Linked DNA regions of Homo sapiens. The protein of the gene in region 1 purifies or fractionates together with the protein of each later gene. This does not show direct contact. Each region holds a gene or a part of one and is shown in the gene's direction. Other genes may lie near its edges. The genes, in order: PBX4, MEIS3, MEIS1 and ZNF276.

Region 1 (3,569 bases):
GTGTTGGCCAGGCTGGTCACAAATTCCTGACCTTAGGTGATCTGCCTACCTCAGCCTCCCAAAGTGCTGGGATTACAGGCGTGAACTACTGTGCCTGGCCTGTTCTTCAATGAATTTTTAACAAATTTGGCCGATATTTATCGGACCTTTACAATATCTGGGTACTGAACTGGGTTCTGGCATAGCTCTCAAGTTCTTCCTGCTCTCAAGTTCATGGTTTGGGGAGAGAAAGTAAATTTGTTCTTCAAACTTTCTTTCCTTTGCTTCTCAGGGAATGTTGACACTTTTTGTAGTTTCAGATGCTCTGTTTGAGAAATTAGAGTCCTTGTCACCATACAACTATTTCTTTGGCTTTTTTTTTTTTATATAAGGCCGCGCTCTGTCACCCAGGCTAGAGTGCAGTAGTGTCATCATGACTCACTGCAGCCTCAACCTTCTGGGCCCAAGCAATCTTCACACCTCAGCTTCTTGAGTAGCTAGGACCACAGGCCTGTGCCACCACGCCTGGCTAATCTTTCTTTTTTTTTTTTTTTTTTTTTTTTTTGGAGACAGGGTCTCACTCTGTCACCCAGACTGGAGTGCAGTGGTGCAGTCTCAGCTCACTGCAACCTCTGCCTCCCAGGCTCAAGCAATTCTCCTGCCTCAGCCTCCTGAGTAGCTGGGATTACAGGCGTGTGCCACTACCGCCTGGCTAATTTTTTTTTGTATTTTTAGTAGAGACAGGGTTTCACCGTATTGGCTAGGCTGGTGTTGAACTCCTGACCTCAAATGATCCACCCACCTCGGCCTCCCAAAGTGCTGGGATTACAGCCCTGAGCCACCACACCTGGACTAATCTTTCTATTTTTTTAGGTCTCCCTATGTTGGCCAGGCTGGTCTCAAACTCCTGAGTTAAGAAATCCTCCCGCCTCAGCCTTCCAAAGGTCGAGGATTTCAAACATGAGCCACTGAGCCTGGCTCCTCCAACTGTTTTCATTGTGGTTTTTTGTTTGTTTGTTTGTTTTTGTTTGTTTGTTTGGCTGTTTTTTGGTTTGGTTTGGGTTTTTTTGAGACGGAGTCTCATACTCTGTTGTCCAGGCTGGAGTGCAGTGGCGCGATCAGGCTGGAGTGCAGTGGCGCGATCTCGGCTAGTGAGCAACCTCCGCCTCCCGGGTTCAAGTGATTCTCCCATCTCAGTTTCCCAAGTAGCTGGGATTACAGGTGTGCACCACCACACCTGGCTAGTTTTTTGTATTTTTAATAGAGATGGGGTTTCACCATGTTGGCCAGGCTGGTCTCAAACTCCCGACCTCAGATGATCTACCCGCCTTGGCCTCTCAAAGTGTTGGGATTACAGGCGTGAGCCACTGCGCCGGGCCATGTTTGTTTGTTTGTTTTTGAGACAGGGTCTTATTCTGTCACCCAGGCTGGAGTGCTGTGGTATGATCTCAACTCACTACAACCTCTGCTTCCCAGGTTCAAGTGATTCTCCAGCCTCAGTCTCCCAAGTAGCTGGGACTACAGCCTCAAACCACCAATGAATGGCTGGCTAATTTTTGTATTTTTTGTGGAGATGGGGTTTCACCATGTTGTCCAGGCTGGTCTTGAACTCCTGAGCTCAAGTGATTCACCCATCTTGGCCTCCCAGAGTGCTGGGATGACAGACGTGAACCAGTGTTTTTATTCTTTTTGGAGCATTGTACCAGGTGCTAGAGAAACCAAGATGGCTAAGATGTTCTCTGCCTTCTTGGAGCCCACTGAGAAGTAGGGTGTGTGGGAGACCAACTTGTAAATAATTGTTATAACAGGAATGTGCTGTGTAGAGGTAATTCCTAGCACAGAAGAGCTGTGCCAGGAGAGGGTGCCTTCCGTGATGTCTGTTAGGCTAGTCGGAGAGCAGTGGCTTTATTATACTTTGTGTTCCCAGAGCCAGGATCAATGCCTAGCACCTTGCATTCAGTAGTTTCATGACACTGAGGAGATTCTAGAGGGATTAGTAGGAGTTGGGAAAGGGGGAAGATGGTTTTGACACACCCAGGAATGTCACCGCAGAGGCAGAGCTTTGGGTGTGTCCTGGAAGCTACTTTTGTACTTTCCAGACCGGGATATTGCTGCTTAAGGGGTGAGCTCTGCTCAGATGTGGCCTTCCTCAGGCCCAGCACAGCCCCAGGGCTGCTGCATTTTCCTTGCAGCAATCTCCTGAGATTCTAGTTTCCCTAGACAGGCTTTAGATTTAGAATGGAATGCAGCCAGTTACTTTTTTTTTTTTTTTTTTTTTTTTTTTTGAGACAGAGTCTCGCTCTGGCGTGTTCTTGGCTCACTGCAACTTCTGCCTCCTGGGTTCAAGAGATTCTCCTGCCTCAGCCTCCCGAGTAGCTAAGATTACAGGCGCCTGCCACCACGCCCGGCTAATTTTGGTATTTTTTTAGTAGAGACGGGGTTTTGCCATGTTGGCCAGGCTGCTCTCAAACTCCTGACCTCAGGTGATCCTCCCACCTCGGCCTCCCAAAGTGCTGGGATTACAGGCATAAACCACCACGCCCTGCCAGCCAGTTACTTCTTTACCATTTTCAAAGATAGCTCTTTTTGTTTTAAGGCTAAGAAATTAGGCTGGGTGCAGTGGCTCACGCCTGTAATCCCAGCACTTTGGGAGGCCGAGGCAGGAGGATCACCTGAGCTCAGGACTTCGAGACCAGCCTGTGCAACGTGGAGAAACCCCACCTCTACTAAAAATACAAAAATTAGCTGGGCATGATGATGCCCACCTGTAGTATGTGTCAGCTACTGAGGAGGCTGAGGCAGGAGAACCGATTGAACCCTGGAGACGGAGGTTGCAGTGAGCCGAGATCGTGCCACTGCACTCCAGCCTGGATGACAGAGAAAAAAAAAAAAGAAATTAAATGGTGTGGTGGGGGGCGTTATTCATGCTTGATAACACAGGTGTTAGGTAGCTGGTTCCTGGTTTCTGGCCTCTTTCTGAATTGGGATGACCCCCGGGGCTTTTATTTCGAGACTTTGAAGCTTCAAATCTCCCTCATTTCTTTGGACCTAGCCTTTAGATGAACTCAAAGCCCTAAAGTTCACTCAAGTCCAGACAAAAATCATCCATCCTCAAATGGGCTATTTCCACCCCTCTGGAGGAAATACAGCTCCTCACAGTAAACCCTGCAGCCTGGTAGATTACCAACCTGGGCTGGGAAGCAGATTGTCTCTTCTGATCAACTGATCCTGTGAGGCTTTTGAAAATCTTTCTGATCCTGCCCACTCTCAATGTGCCAGTCACCCCTTTTATCACCCCAGCAGTCAGTTGAACTCAACTGTTTAGCAAGAAGGAATTTTTCATCTCAGTCGTGAGGCCCTCTGAACATGTTTTGTTGCCGTAAGTTTGTTTTCAGAAGGAAAATATAGCTCTCTCTTCAAACCTGGGTTTTTTGTTTTGTTTTGTTTTTTTCTTGAGACAGAGTCTCACTCTGTTGCCCTCGCTGGGATACAGTGGTGCGATCTCAGTTCACTGCAACCCTCGTCTCATGGGTTCAAGCAATTCTGCCTCAGCCTCCCGAGTAGTTGGGATTACAGGTGTGTACAGGTAT
Region 2 (3,569 bases), about 28 Mb from region 1:
CGCAACAACAGTGTCACAAACAGGACAACCAAACCTTCAAACTGCAGTCACAGAAAGGAAAATGTAGACTGGTGATGGCTGGGCGCAGTGGCTCATGCCTGTAATCCCAGTACTTTGGGAGGCCGAGGTGAGCAGATCATCTGAGGTCAGGAGTTCAAGACCAGCCTGGCCAACATGGCAAAAACCCGGCTCTACTAAAAATACAAAACTTAGGCCAGGTGCAGTGGCTCACGACTGTAATCCCAGCACTTTGGGAGGCTGAGGTGGGCAGATCACGAGGTCAGGAGTTTGAGACCAGCCAGGCCAACATGGTGAAACCCCGTCTCTACTAAACATAAAAAAAACAAAAAATTAGACAGGCGTGGTGGCACGCACCTCTGATCCCAGCTACTCAGGAGGCTGAGGCAGGAGAATTGCTTGAACCCGGGAGGCGAAGGTTGCAGTGAGCCAAGATCGCGCTATTGCACTTCAGCCTGGGTGACAGGGCAAGACTCTGTCTCAAAAAAACAAACAAACAACAACAAATTAGCTGGGTGTTATGTCGTGCGCCTGTAGTCCCATCTACTTGGGAGGCTGAGGCAGGAGAATCACTTGAACCCGGGAGGCGGAAGCTGCAGTGAGCCGAGATCTCGCCACTGCACTCTAGCCTGGGCGACAGAGTGATACTCTGTCTCAAAAAAAAGAAGGGTGGGAGGAGGCGTGGTCACCAGAACTGGAGAGAGGAGCAGATTGCTTGACAGCGGCTAAGATTTTTGGTAGAAGAATACAGTTAATCTAAAACCACTTGGCAGATTTAACCCAACGTTAAACTGAAAAACAAAGAACTGTTACTGCAGTCCATATGGGTGAGCTGACCTCCTGGGGCACAGATCTGGGTAGAGGGTAAATCCTACCCGATTGTTGAGTTCCTCAAAGTGTGTTGGAGTTTGCATAAAGAAACTGTGAGGCTGGCTGCAGTGGCTTCATGGCTGTAATCCCAGCACTTTGGGAAGTCGAGGCAGGAGGATTGCTTGAGCCCAGGAGTTCGAGAGCAGTCTGGACAAACTGTGAAATCCCATCTCGACAAAAAATAAGAAAAATTAGCCAGGCGCAACTGTAGTTCCAGCTACTTGGGAGGCTGAGGCGGGAGGATTGCTTAAGCCCAGGAGTTTGAAGCTGCAGAGAGCTAAGATTGCACCACTGCACTCCAGCCTAGGTGACAGAGCAAGACTCTGTCTCTTCAAAGAAAAAAAAAAGATAAGGCCGGGCACGGTGGCTCACACCTGTAATCCCAGCGATTTGTGAGTCTGAGGGGGGTGGATCACAAGGTCAGGAGTTTGAGACCAACCTGGCCAACATGGTGAAACCCCATCTCTACTAGAGATACAAAAAATTAGCCGGGCATGGTGGCACACACCTGTAATCCCAGCTACTCGGGAGGCTGAGGCAGGAGAATCGCCTGAACCCAGGAGGTATAGGTTTCAGTGAGCTGAGATCATGCCATTGCACTCCAGCCTGGGGGACAGGGCGAGACTCCGTCTCAAAAAAAAAAAAAAAAGAAAAGAAAAAGATAATACAGCCCCAGACCCCCTTAGCTACAATTCTGAGACCCCAGAATCTCTGAAACTTCAAAGTTTTGGATTTTGTCCCATAAATTTAGTGCAAACTCATTTGGCAGCAAAAGCTGACCTGAACTAATGAGGGGCTATTTATAGCCTTTATTTATTCCACTTAGTTAAATACTCATCCATGTTGCTATGGAAATGTTCATGAGTTTGATGACGAGGTTGTGCCCCAGACCCTGCCTAGGATGGTTGCGAACTGCATGGTGTATGCGCTGATTTATTGCCTAGAAATGTGAAATGGGCCTGGCGCAGTGGCTCACGCCTGTTATCCAAGACTTTGGGAGGCAGAAGTGGGTGGATCACTTGAGCCCAGGAGTTCGAGACCAGCCTGGCCAATGTGGTGAAACGCCGTCTCTACTAAAAATACAAAAATTAGCCAGGTGTGGTGGCAGGCACCTGTAATCCCAGCTACTCGGGAGACTGAGGCATGAGAATCACGTGAACCTGGGAGGCAGAGGCTGCATTGAGCCTAGATCATGCAACTACACTCCAGCCTGGGCGACAGAGTGAGACACTGACTAAAAATAAAGATAAAAATGTGAAATGTTCGGAATCCTGAGACACTTCTTGCCCCAAGGATTTTAGATAAGATGCCATAGACCTGTGTAAGGTCATCTTGTTTGAGCCCCTGTGTAGACAAACTCATCATTGAATACTGGCCACACACTGTCAGGACTATTATTGTCCTTCATTTTCCTTTTCTTTTTTTTGAGACGGAGTCTCACTCTGTCACCCAGGCTGGAGTGCATTGGTGTGATCTCGGCTCACTGCAAGTTCTGCCTCCCAGGTTCATGCCATTCTCCTGCCTCAGCCTCCCGAGTAGCTGGGACTACAGGCGCCCACCACCACGCCCAGCTAATTTTTTGTATTTTTAGTAGAGACGGGGTTTCACCATGTTAGCCAGGATGGTCTCGATCTCCTGACCTTGTGATCTACCCGCCTGGGCCTCCCACAGTGATGGGATTACAGGCATGAGCCATCGCGCCCGGCCCTTCTTTTCCTTTTTCTTTTTTTTTTTTTTTTGAGACGTAGTCTCACTTTGTCACCCCGGCCAGGCTGGAGTGCAGTGGCACAATCTTGGCTCACTGCAACCTCCCCCTCCCGGGTTCAAGCGATTCTCCCGCCTCAGCCTCCCGAGTAGCTGGGATTACAGGAACCCACCATCATGCCCAGCTAATTTTTGTATTTTTGGTAGAGACAAAGTTTCACCATGTCGGCCAGGCTGGTCTTCAACTCCTGACCTCAGGTGATCCGCCTGCCTCGGCCTCCCAAAGTGCTGGGATTATAGGTGTGAGCCACTGTGCCCAAGCCAGCCTGGTTTTTGTATTTTTAGTAGAGATGGGGTTTCACCATGTTGGCCAGGCTGGTCTCAAATGCCCGACCTCAGGTGATCTGCCTGCCTCAGCCTCCAAAAGTGCTGGCATTACAGGCGTGAGCCACCGTGCCTGGTCCTGTCCTTCATTTTCCAGTTAAGGAAACGGAGGCTCAGAGTGGGGAAGTGACCTGCCCAAGATCACACAGCTAGGAAGGAGGCAGGGACTGGCTTCCCATCCAGGAGTCCTAGCTCCAGAGTCCATGCCCAAAGCCTTGGCACTAACTTTTTTTTTTTTTTTGACACGGAGTCTTGCTCTGTCACCCAGGCTGGAGTGCAGTGGCGCAATCTCGGCTCACTGCAACCTCTGCCTCCCGGGTTCAAGCGATTCTCCTGCCTCAGCCTCCTGAGTAGCTAGGACTACAGGTGCATGCCACCACACCCGGCTAATTTTTTGTATTTTTAGTAGAGACGGGGTTTCACCATGTTAGCCATGATGGTCTTGATCTCTTGACCTTGTGATCTGCCTGCCTTGGCCTCCCAAAGTGCTGGGATTACAGGCGTGAGCCACTGCGCCCGGCCGCCTTGGCACTAACTTCTAACTCTTGTTTTCTAGAATAATATGTGGATTCGAGACCATGAGGATAGTGGGT
Region 3 (3,569 bases), on another chromosome or scaffold:
ATTAAATGTTTCACAAGTAAGAAGTTGCAGGTAGACCTACTAATGTGGTCAAACAGCTCAGAAAAGGTGATTAGTTTTTCTCAGGTTTTCAGTGTTTTTGTTTATGTTTTATTTTTTAATTAAAGGTTTCCCCCTTTGATATCTACACATTCTAGGGGTAGCTGACATCTGTGTTCTTAATAACAACAAACAGTTCTTGCCACCAAAAAGAAGCAAATAACATCTAGTACCTGTGGGCAGTTGGCTAAGAGGCTGTGGTATTTTTTGTGTGTATTTGCTTTCTACCTGGGGATCAGAGCAGGCCTGGAATAAATGTCGTTGGTGTTGTCCACTGCAAGGCTTCAGGAGGACATAGACAAAGATCAGCCTACTGAGCAGAGAGTGGTCCAGGTATTGAATGGACTCAATATCCTAGAAGGACTCACATTCTAGCAGGCACTTTTTAAGAATCACTAATGTTTAACCTAAGGATTAGAGGGGAGAAGGCTATAAAGCATAATGGCTATGTTTAACTATTTGAAGGGCTATCCTGTGGAAGTAAAATTAGAATTGCTTACAGTACCCCAAGGAGTTGTGCTGATAAAACTATTAGGTTGGGTGCAAAAGTAATTGTTTTTTTTTTTTTTAATTATACTTTAAGTTCTAGGGTACATGTGCACAACGTGCAGGTTTGTTACATATGTATACATGTGCCATGTTGGTGTGCTGCCCCCATTAACTCGTCATTTACATTAGGTATATCTCCTAATGCTATCCCTTCCCCCTCCCCCTGTAATTGTTGTTTTTGCCACTGAAAGTAATGGCAAGACCGCAATTACTTTTGCACCAACATAAATATTTTTGATCTAGTAAGGCAGAACCTTCTAACAGCCTTGTTTATAGATGGGGTGGCCTCTTAAGTAAGGTGGTGAGTGCTGTATTAGTTCAGCAGAGGTTACCTATGTACTTTTGGGGGACAGATATCATATAGGGGATTCATGTCAGTGACCAAACGAAGTGACCATTACAGCCCTTTTGAAACCTGAGGTGTAATTTTTAAAAATGAACTCACGACTTTAATAGTCATAGACTCAAACCTGAGTTGATTATTATGAATTAGTTTATGGGAGTCTCAATATGTGAATATGATGGAGACAAGTTTTGGAATACAGATAAATCAAGTCACTGTATTCACTCTCTCTCTCTCTCTTTGAATAGCCTTATCTTTGCCTATACACACAAACAGTGCAGCCATCAAAATTTTCAATTTACAAAATGTTCACAGTCATGCTTCTTCCTTGACTAAACACTGGGGTTGCTGCCAGTGGTAATTGGCTTGAAACCAGCTAATTTTTATATATCTATTTAGTCTGGATATTCTAGATGAGTGGCACTATAGTTGCGGTGCTCTAGTCACTGTGCCAGAGCACCAGGGAGGAGGGTGCTTGCTACCACTGACAGCTGTGTGTCATTTAGCAAATTATTAACATCTCTTTGGTAACATGTGACCTCAAAGAAGTCACCTAATTTCTCTGAGCCCAGGCTTCTCATCTGTTAAAAATGTCTCTTCCTATTTTTAGGTAAGTAGTATAAGTCACATCCATAAAAGATTATGTTTTTAAAAAGTCTGGAAAAAGAAAGTTAATAGACAGAATTCCTTCCCTCTAAGAGTCTGCAGATAATGAACAGTACCATAGATAAAGAGATGTTTTTGCTCTCTTACCTACATTAGTTACTATGAAAATTACTTTTGGTATATGCAGAATATTAATATTAAATAATTTTCTAATTGGTCATGCAGTGAAGGCAGCTAATGAAAAAACAGATTTTTTTTCATTTTAATTGGTTATTTCACATGGTGTTTGTGCTACACCTGTGCTTATAATGAGAATGGAGAATTAATCTAACCTTCTGCTCACATGATTCCAGTTTTCATGGTTTATACAAGATAATGATAACCTGATTTGCAACACAATTTGTTGTAGACCTGTGTTTTAAATATTTTTATTAGCAGTTCAGGGACTTCATATACAAGAACTGATATAATATGTATTGCCAACAAGAATTAGCACAAACAGTATACCTTTTAGTTAGATTCTAGTTTCATTATTTGTTTCAATTACTTCTCAGATAATGAAAGAACACAAGGATACAGGATATTGAGAATCTTAAAATGTTATGAAGTATGCATTTTTGTTTTGAAAACCTGTCCCTGTCTGTTTAATGGTTTGGTTTTTAGGAACTATTTTCCTTCCTGAAGTGGGCAGATTTACAAACTAGAATTCATACTGGACTATGGATCCTTTAATCATTAATAGAGCCTTATTAAACTTTTCATTGTATTTTTTATGTCCTGCTCAGATTTGATCTGAGTTGGGAACTAAAAGGAATTTACTATTTCAGAATCTAATATGTCCTCTTCATTTTCTGGATTTGATACGTAATTTTTAATATTATGCAGAACAAACGGATCTTAAGAGAATCTCATGCGTATGACTCTGGAGAGCGTATATTAATACTTTTTTACATGTCAGTGACTTGTCACTTTTGGAGAGGCTACAAAAATAATTGTACAAAACTATCTTATTAAGGCACTTAAAGTAACTTAAGTGCCTTAATAAGATGTTTATAAATTTTCAGTACTAGCTGGAGAAAGCAAAACTATAAGTTCAATTACTGTATATCTGTGACCTTGCCTTGACCTCAGACTTTACATAAAGAGCAAAAAAAAAAAAAACAACAACAACAAAAAAAGCCACCCCAAGAAATCTCTACAAGGAATGCATTTCTCTGAAGTCCTAAGCAGTGTGAGTTAGTGGTGATAAACTCCAGACATTCTCTCATTTGATGGTGTGCTGCCATCCCAGTTCATTATCTTAATAGTGGGCATTAAAATAGAATTAGGTTTGCAAGAGGTAGGGGTGGTTTTGATAAAAATTGTACAAAAGAAGTCAGAGAACATAAGATTGAAATGTCACTAATTAGGAGAGGTAACAGATGCCCTTATGAGCATCTAACTCTTTACACCAATTTTCTCTCTTTGCAAATGAAAGGAGTGGTGGCTAGTATTGTTTCCTGAAAACTCTGCTAATTCCCCCATGAAAAGATGAAATGGAAGTGTCCAACTGTGGTAAAACAGGCAAACATAAATCAACTCAGAAACCCCAAGCCTGTGTACTCAAAGGTCACTGGGGGTTACAGGTTTTCCAGCACGTGAGGCTGCACATAGAGCAATGGAGAGAACTGAAGGAGTCCCATTTTGCCAAGATCTAGTTTTACTCCAACTGCGATTCATCTTTTCCTCTTCCTCAACCCCCCCTTTTATTTTTAAGGAATAACGATTTGTTTCACTTTCTTGGTTACAGGTTTATTAATGCCCGGAGAAGAATAGTGCAGCCCATGATAGACCAGTCCAACCGAGCAGGCAAGTCCCCCATAGTGACTGTATTCAAGTCACGCAAGCGAAAACCATCCTCAAGCCATTCACCGGGAGGTCCGCTACCTGGTAAATAAACTGGGAGTGAGTATAGGAACGCCTGGCAATTAAAATTAAACCAGTTTCGTTTCATAACAACACTAATCAATTTAAC
Region 4 (2,958 bases), on another chromosome or scaffold:
TAATTGATTCCTTTCCCCACTAAAGCAGTCGAGGAGATTTGTAATCCACTTTTTAGTGCAACAAGAGCTCCATGTTATGCTTGTAATAAATTATTTACACGGGAGCTGGGCTGGTGTGCAGTGGCAGGTCCCGTCAGAAGAGATGAGGCTCCTGGGACAGGTCAGCGTCAGGGGCAGCCTGCTGTCTGCTCTGGAGGGCGGCGCTCACCTCTGGGTCGCAGTCCCCACGATCAGCCAGCAGCTGTGAGAGAGGAGCAGGTCCTCAGCCCATGCCGCCCACTAGGCCTCAGACCACAGGGGAGGGGCTCTGGCAGAAATAGTCGAGTTGTATTGCCAGCCAGGCAGGCACATGGCCCAGGCAGCTGTCAATTCTCATGTCCCCCACATGGCCCAAGGTGGGCATCTTGACGTTACCTCTGCCACGTGTGAGAAGCTCTTTTTCGGGCACCGAGGTATTAACTGCAGCAGAAAAAGACGAGCTTTTGTTATCAGTTCCACGGGGTTGCCCTAGAGAGAAAACAGGCAAACTCACAGGTTAGAAGACATACAGAAACAGGGCTGGTGTGTCCCCCATAGTCTGCATGCTGTGCCGGAACATTCTTTGGCAGAAGGAGCCTCCGGCTGGGGGGAGCTCCCCTGGAGGTGGGACTGGCCCTTGCACCTGCCTGACCCTTGAGCTCCAGGCTCCTGCCAGCTGGAGGTGAAACTGTGCTTGTATCCCCAGCCACGAAGAGCTGGACCAGCTTCAAGTACATGTCCACAGCAACATGCAGGAAGGCCTCTTCCCTGATGGCCGCGTCTTCATGGAAGTAGGAGAGAAGACTAGAGGTAAAGACATAGTGACAAATGGCTACAGACTGCTGGAAAGGTAGCAGGTGATGCCAAGGGATACTGCTCATCTGTGGAGCAGAGGCACAGACAACCCTTCCCATCTGGCGGGACCCAGAGGTGCTGAGATGGGGGTCTGGGAAACACTGCCCAGCCCTGACCAGCCCTGTGGGTGGAGGTACCTGTAAAAAGCGAAAGGCAGCAGCCTGGTGTGCTGATCCGGGGCCACACGGAGGAGGAGCCGCCCCAGCCTGAGGTCTGCAACACCAAGAAGTGGCTCAGGCAACTCTGGACATCTCTGCCTATTATCAGTGCTGGGGACACCCCTGGGGGTCGGGACGTGTACCCTGGGAGGCCTGGCTGTGGGGATAGTGTGGGGCGAACAGCCTGAGCTGAGGATACCCAGGTACCTGTCAGCAGCTGGGAGAGGATGGGGGGGTCGACCTCTTGCAGGAGGGTGGGTGTGGTGCAGAGAGAGGCAGTCCCCATGATAGGCCCATTGGTCCTGGGGTTGACCAGTGAGCCAGTAAATTATCTTATTGCTTTAAACAAGTTTGTGCTTAATCTGTCCCAACTAAAATGGAGCTTATAAACTTACTTAGCAAGGAACCTCAAGGAGGGCTCGTTCTTAACCATTTGCAAGATGCCTCTGAAAAGAGCGGCCCTCCGCATTTGTGCCTCAGCAGCGTGTTTCTTACCACTCTCTGTCAACTGAAAGAGTGCCAGCCAGGATATCTTCCTCTTCTCTAAACACTCGAGGATTGCTGCACAAACGTGGAAAGCCTTTGGCAGGTCTGTGGTGCTCTGTAAACCGCAGGAGACCAACCCTGAGAATGGCCGACCTGGTGCTCCCATGGGTAGGAGGGTACAGCCCTCAGCACAGAAGAGGGCATTTCCTCTTTGCTTATTGTAAGTCTTAAAACTGGTGACAGTTTTACCTATAGAAGGTAATACTGGGCCTCTGGACAGAAGAGGCTCAGGTAGGAGGCCAGGGACTTCGAGCACCCACACCAAGGCTGCTGCACCACGTCCTCAAATAAGACATTAAAAGAAAGGCCCACAGGCCGGATGCAGTGGCTCATGCCTGTAATCCCAACACTTTGGGAGGCCGAGGTCGGCGGATCACTGAGGCCAGTTCAAGACCAGCCTGGCAATATGGTGAAACCCCGTCTCTACTAAAAATACAAAAATTAGCCGGGTGTGACAGACTCACGCCTGTAATCCCAGCTACTCGGGAGGCTGATGCAGGAGAATTGCTTGAACCCAGGAGGCTGAGGTTGCAGTGAGCTGAGATCACACCACTGCACTCCAGCCTGGGTGACAGAGTGAGACCCCCATCTCAAAAAAAAAAAAAAAAAACCCACGGCCTGGGAGTTCTCACTCACACTTCCGCAAACACAAGGAGCTCCTGAGCTAGTCTGGAAACCCTGACTTGGAAGCTGGCTGCCTGGTGCCCCTGCCTGGCCCACAGTGGGAGAGGACACCTTGGCTGGTAAGGTCTGACTTACATTTGAGGTCAGATGTGACGACAGCAGGCCCATCAAGGAGAAGAAGAAAAGGAAAACCAATAGCTGTAAATAAAAACGTGCACTTATTATTACATTAAAATTACCTGTGCTGTCATTCTAAATAAGGCTGACACATTCCTCTTTAATTGAAATTTTTTACATCTAGGCCATAAATCCTTTAAGTGGATCTTAGAAAACTTTCCAATCACTTCTAGAGAGACAGCTTAATTGAGAATTAATTACTACTGGCTGGGTCATTTCACACTTGCCTTTAAACAAAGCTAGAAACAGTTTGAAAAAGTGACAAGAGCCAGAAAGAGAAGACTGCTGCGGTCTCCTTGGCTGTGCGCAGTCCCAACTCAGCATCATCTCCCTGCAAGGCCTCCTGTCAGAAGTGTTTGTAAAATCCTTGAAGATAAGCCCACAGGCTCCAGCCTAAAGTAGGGCCTGACTGGGCAGGGTCTCTGTGGACACTCCTCGCTGCACACTAGGGTCCTAAGGCCCTGGAGCCACTAAAATCCCTTCTAACAAAACTACACAAGAAACCTGAAGACGTACTCAGAAGAACCCCTGCAGGGTGGTTATAATCACCAAAACCCTGGGCGCTGCTGTCGATCCAGCT

Evidence for each region.
Region 2: the proteins of PBX4 (region 1) and MEIS3 purify together in Homo sapiens (affinity purification with mass spectrometry; one large-scale study listed by BioGRID and IntAct). This does not show direct contact.
Region 3: the proteins of PBX4 (region 1) and MEIS1 purify together in Homo sapiens (affinity purification with mass spectrometry; one large-scale study listed by BioGRID and IntAct). This does not show direct contact.
Region 4: the proteins of PBX4 (region 1) and ZNF276 purify together in Homo sapiens (affinity purification with mass spectrometry; one large-scale study listed by BioGRID and IntAct). This does not show direct contact.

The regions. Positions count from the first base shown.
Region 1 is NC_000019.10:19,612,141-19,615,709, reverse strand, and holds part of PBX4 (pre-B-cell leukemia transcription factor 4), read left to right. Parts: intron 1-3,569.
Region 2 is NC_000019.10:47,409,511-47,413,079, reverse strand, and holds part of MEIS3 (homeobox protein Meis3), read left to right. Parts: intron 1-3,532; coding exon 3,533-3,569. UniProt on the Homo sapiens protein: Transcriptional regulator which directly modulates PDPK1 expression, thus promoting survival of pancreatic beta-cells. Also regulates expression of NDFIP1, BNIP3, and CCNG1.
Region 3 is NC_000002.12:66,564,109-66,567,677, forward strand, and holds part of MEIS1 (homeobox protein Meis1), read left to right. Parts: intron 1-3,344; coding exon 3,345-3,403; intron 3,404-3,569. UniProt on the Homo sapiens protein: Acts as a transcriptional regulator of PAX6. Acts as a transcriptional activator of PF4 in complex with PBX1 or PBX2. Required for hematopoiesis, megakaryocyte lineage development and vascular patterning.
Region 4 is NC_000016.10:89,738,468-89,741,425, forward strand, and holds the end of ZNF276 (zinc finger protein 276), read left to right. Parts: 3' UTR 1-133; coding exon of another isoform or gene 134-241; 3' UTR 242-414; coding exon of another isoform or gene 415-507; 3' UTR 508-661; coding exon of another isoform or gene 662-822; 3' UTR 823-1,010; coding exon of another isoform or gene 1,011-1,086; 3' UTR 1,087-1,526; coding exon of another isoform or gene 1,527-1,632; 3' UTR 1,633-2,336; coding exon of another isoform or gene 2,337-2,399; 3' UTR 2,400-2,458; downstream 2,459-2,958. Other genes in the region: FANCA (Fanconi anemia group A protein), read right to left, coding at 134-241, 415-507, 666-822, 1,011-1,086, 1,527-1,632, 2,337-2,399. UniProt on the Homo sapiens protein: May be involved in transcriptional regulation.